2 separate regions of the Homo sapiens genome follow, and region 2 is linked to region 1. Evidence: fine-mapped expression QTL. Tissue or cell type: tibial artery. Region 1 holds a variant in brackets; the other region holds the start of a gene. All regions are shown on one strand. Distances are between the middles of the regions.

The links. PIP is the estimated chance that this variant, and not a neighbour inherited with it, causes the effect.
Region 2: STX8 starts here. The variant in region 1 is fine-mapped to the expression of STX8 in tibial artery (GTEx, PIP 0.98).

Annotation. Positions count from the first base shown.
Region 1 is chr17:9,331,697-9,334,379 of GRCh38, reverse strand. All of the region lies in intron 7 of STX8 (syntaxin 8), which reads left to right. Among named protein-coding and RNA genes, the nearest start is that of STX8, 240 kb to the left of the region's middle. The variant T/C (reference allele first, on the strand shown) is at 1,528.
Region 2 is chr17:9,574,325-9,577,007 of GRCh38, reverse strand. It overlaps STX8 (syntaxin 8), which reads left to right and starts at 1,188. Exons shown (of 8, transcript NM_004853.3): 1 at 1,188-1,216. The coding sequence starts at 1,200. CFAP52 (cilia and flagella associated protein 52) reads right to left here and starts at 366. Exons shown (of 14, transcript NM_145054.5): 1 at 243-366. The coding sequence starts at 312. RefSeq lists enhancers at 104-233, 1,026-1,205.

The sequences.
Region 1 (2,683 bases):
CCAGAAAAAATTTCCTTCTTGCCTGGGGACTAGACTACTAACATTAACCACAAGATTATAAGTTATGCTTTAGGAGTCATGTAGCTGGAGACTACAAGATTCTGGCCCTCCCTAAACTGCTCCTACAGTCAGGACTTGAGATGGTTTCCAGACTCTACCCTTGATGGATCAACCGGCACCACCCAGATTGAGAAACCAGCCCATCTGATCTTGTGACTGCCCCCCACCCCCACACCCCCCCGCACCCAGGAACTGACTCAGTGCAAGAAGACAGGGACGACCCATGATTTCACCTTCGACCCAACCAATCAGCACTCCCCAGCTCACTGCCCCTCCCCTCCCACCAAATTGTTTTTTAAAACCTTGATCCCCAAATGTTCAGGGAGACTGGCTTGAGTAATAATAAAACTCCAGTCTCCTGCTCAGCCGGTTCTGTGATAATTACTGTTTCTCTATTGCCATTCCCCTGTCTAGAGAAATCGGCTCTGTCTAGGCAGCAGGTAAGGTGAACCCACTGGGCAGTTACAAATTGGGTAAGGTGAACCCATTGAGCAGTTAGGCAGTCTGAAAAATTTCTATGTCTTCCATGTTTTCCAACAAAATGACTGTGTAACTTTTAAAAAACATGTGTGTGTTATATCTATTTACATGACCTCCTGCTTGAAGCAAGTGTTTATTATAAGTTATTTTAGGCCAGGCGCCGTGGCTCACGCCTGTAATCCGAGCACTTTGGGAGGCCAAGGCGGGCGGATCACAAGGTCAGGAGATCCAGACCATCCTGGCTAACACAGTGAAACCCCATCTCTACTAAAAAAATACAAAATATTAGCTGGGCGTGGTGGCGGGCGCCTATAGTCCCAGCTACTCGGGAGGCTGAGGCAGGAGAATGGCGTGAACCCGGGAGGCGGAGCTTGCAGTGAGCCGAGATCATGCCACTGCACTCCAGCCTGGGTGACAGAGCAAGACTCTGTTTCAAAAAAAATAAAATAAGTTATTTTAATTTGAAAGCTAGAGGAACAGAAAACCAAATACCATGTGTTCTCACTTATAAGTGGGAGATACACATTGAATACACATGGACATAAAGATGGGAACAAAAGACATTGGGGACTATTGTGGGGGAGAGAGGGAGGGGAGCAAAGGCTGAAAAACCACCTATTGGATACTGTGCTCACTACCTCGCTGAGGGGATCATTCGTACCTTAAACCTCAGTGTCACACAATATACCCATGTGACAAATCTGTATATGTACCTCCTGAATCTAAAAATTGAGATTATTATTTTTTAATCCCAAAAGAAAGCACAGTTAAAAAAGAATTGAAAGCTGGAAGCGACAGGAAACTTGGACGCATATCTTCATTCTCGGTAGGGGAATACTCTGCTTTAAGAAGTATTGTGTCTCGTTCTCATCTTGAAGCCCTTGGGCGTGGCAGCTGAAAGCTTTTAAAGATGGGATGCATTTCCCCAAAGGTAGCCAAAAATATCATTACCTCCCTAGGCAAATACGTCTTGGGTGCTAGGCACTG[T/C]GTTGGGTGAGGTAGGATACAATGGTGGTCCCTGCCCTCAGGGAGCTTATATTGCAGTTGGGGGAGGGAATCGAGATAGTAAACAGTAAGCAGGCACACATAAATGTAATAATTACCAATTGTGTTACAGTCTAGACAGCCAGAAGGCCCTCTGGATGTAGAGACTCTGAAAAAGGATCCAGTTCTGCATTACTGATTTTATTAACATCGTTAAGATTGTCACTAGACAATGGTTTGAATAACATAAGAATGTTTAAGCATTTATGACAGATGACTGAAACATAGCACCATTAGCTCCATTTGGATGAATTATAAAATAGTCTCCAGTTCCTTGGAACCTTGGGAGAAGTGAAATGTCATTACAGATCTAGGTCTCTAGAAGAAGAAAGCCGCTATTTTTGTCCCTTCCTTTTGTGAATCTTGTCTTCCTTACTTGGTGGATGATGTTGGTTAAGTTAACCAAAGGCAGCACGTCGATCTGATGATTTGTTAACTCCGTCCGCATTGTTCATTGGTGTTTTGGATGAGGGGGAAATGATGAGATCTCTGCCTCTGAGTCATTCTCCCTGACTCCAACTCAACCCTCGTTCCAATTTGCCCATTTCCCATTATGGAGCAGAAAAGACTGCTTAAGGCCTGGTTTATTTACCTAATAAACTGGCTCTTGTATTGCCTGGGAAATGCTAAAATTTTTCAGCTAAGAAATCCTAGTAACAAGCAAACAGAGGTCCAGCAGTCAGGACTGAAGAAACAACAAAATGAAGGTCAGCTAATATCGCCATTATTCTCCTTCCTGGTGGCCATGACAGCGCTGGGGTTTATTTGAAGATCCCAGACTCGGAATCATTGCCCGCATTGTTAGCCGCCCAAGTATTTTAGGCTGTGCCAACAGTTTCAGATATTAATGTATTCTACAGATCCGTGAATGAAGAATTCCTCTGCACTTTTTTCCCTTTTAATTTTTTTTTTCCTTTCCATACACTTTGTTTGCAGTGTCTTTGTCTGCCAGACGTTGCTGGGCATTTCTAATGAGAAAGCAAAGAATTGCAGAAGGAAAAAGGCAGAGAGGGGGGAGGGAGAGAGAGAACAGGCGGAGGAAAAACAGGGCGTGTTTAGCACTTTAACAGTAAGGTGACATTTTTACAAGCTAGTCAGG
Region 2 (2,683 bases), 240 kb before region 1:
CTGGCGCTTGTCCGAGCTGGTAAAAACCATCTCACTCCCTGAGGCTTGGATCGAGGAAGTGACTCTCCAAGGCCTTGGGGCAGGTCAGGCTGTGCGGGTCCTCCTGTGCGTGTCCCTGGCCAGGGCTCCTGCCGTTGTCCCACACTGCCTTTCAGGTGTCCCCGGTGTCTCACTATTCCTGTTTGCACTACACGTCCTCCGAATTCCTAAACCAGCCAGCCCAAAGATGCTGGAGGCCTCACCATTGAAGCCGATCACGGCGTCAAGTTCCAGCTCCGCCACTTGGGCCTCCGGCGAAATTTTGTTATCCATCCTTGGGAGGTTCTGATTACTTTGCTCTCCTCCCTAGTGGCTGCAGCGTCTTCTGGTCGTTATGGTAACGGACGAGCGCATGCGCTCCAGCTCCACGCCCGCGCAGAAACCCAGCCTGCCGAGTTCGAGTTCATTAGCATTCTTGGAAATGAAGGGGTATGGGGACTGGAAGAGAGATGGGGTGGGACTCCTCTTCTTTTTTTTTGTGCTATTTCTCTGGAAATTTAGGGGATGGCACTAACTGCGCAGAACTAATTCCTCCATCCCCTTGTGTAGAGTCTGTGACTTCTTAGTAACTCTAAAATCAAGCACCGAATGAATGGCATTTAAAAAATATGTAATCAGGCGTACAGGACTGATAGGAAGGCTGCTATAAAAAATATATATAATTGATACTTCTTTGGGCCCCTGTTTGGAGCAGTGTGAAAAAAATTTTAAAGATTTTTTAAAAAGCGTTGAGGTATAATTTACATATCATAAAGTTAACTTAAAGTAGGTTGTAGTGAGTTTACGCAGCGTGCAAGTCTCACCGCAATCTAGTGTTTTGTTTATTGTTTTGTTTTTGAAGCAGGATAAATTTTTAAGTAACTGCTACAGAGAGGTCTTGCAGCGCTCCCACCTTCCTGGGAAAATGCTTTGTTTCTATTTAACAATTTTAACTGAGCTTAGCAGTTCGCGTCTCTTGGTGGGAGTAGATTGCTCCAGTGTACTGTCCGCAGGGGAGCGCTTTGCTTTCTCTGATTATAGTTCTGAGGCCCTAGCTACTCACTTTGCAAACTCCAGGCTCCGGTCGCGCACGGGACGAACTGCGGGGAGTGAGCCGCGCGGGCCGCCGTAGTCAGCTGCTAAGAGCAGGAAGAGTCCGAGCGGCGGGCGGAGTCTGCAGGATGGCACCGGACCCCTGGTGAGTCCCGGGTGAGGGCGGCGGTGCGTGGAGGGACCTTCGGGGAGGCCGGGCTTCCGGAGAGCAGGCAATCACTTCGCATTGCCGCTGGTGGCCTTTCGGGATGAGGGGAGGGGCAGCGAGACCTTTCCTTTACTGAGGGGGCTCAGCCACATCCCGCCACACTTGGTCCTTGCAAGGGTGGCCCGGGAAGGAGACCAGGTGGTCCGCTGGAGAGCTGAGGACTTACGCCAAATCTCTGAATATTCCTTTAGCTTTTCTGGGCTGCATCTCGTTGCGGGGATTTCCCGCCCATCCTGGTTTTGGAGCTAGCTGGCTGGTGCAGGCTTCCCTGGACTCCTATAAAAGTGAAGTCGAAATAACGTTTTTGTAGCATGTCAGTCCATCCCGGTAAACCCCCTTATTTCACAGGTGGAGAAACCGAGGTTCAGAATCCATGGCCACCAGCCAGTTAGTAACCAGCTGGGGCTAAGACCTAGATCTTGGGGGCCCTTCCAGATACAGGAACCTGGGAGGGAAATTGTGCACTTGTTTATAAGGCATTTTGCACTTTCTTGAGTTAATATCATGAAGTCTTTTCCTTTAGCAGTAGCTTCTGCAGTAAAACAATAGCTGATAAGGGTGATTTATTTAGCAGTTAATCCCAAGGACTGCATGATGAAAGATGCAACTTTTGATCCCAAGGAACATATTGTTTGATCCCAAGGAACGTATTGTTATTGAACATAGACTTGACCTTTCTGCTTAATAATTAAAAACATATTACAGCTCTATAACGTTCTTGTTGGAATATGTGTCTTATGTTGTTATTTCTAATATAGTTTATAATTGTTTAAGTTGCCCACATCCTGGATATTAGAAGAATGGATTCCAAGAACAAAGTTGAGTTACCTGGAATCTAGGTTATTTGGGCCAATTATTTAATTTAGCATTTACTTTTTTAAACCTAATTTTAGGCCGGACGCGGTGGTGGCTCACGCCTGTAATCCCAGTACTTTGGGAGGCCGAGGCAGGCAGATCACCTGAGGTCGGGAGGTCGAGACCAGCCTGACCAACATGGAGAAACCCCGTCTCTACTAAAAATACAAAATTAGCCGGGCATGGTAGTACATGCCTGTAATCCCAGCTACTCGGGAGACTGAGGCAGGAGAATCGCTTGAACCCGGGAGGTGTAGGTTGTGGTGAGCTGAGATCGTGCCATTGCACTCCAGCCTGGGCAACACGAGCGAAACTCCGTCTCAAAAAAAAATAAAAAACCCCAAAATCCCTAATTTTAACAGTTATATACACCCCTTGATAGAGAATATTCAATTTAGAGAATATTGAAAATTTGCAAAAAGGAAAATAAATAGCATCTTTAACTCTATAATTTGGAAATAGCCATTAATGATTTTTTTACAATGAATTTGTTATTTTAATCTATATTTTTATATATATATATAATATAAACAGCATTTCTCTATGTCA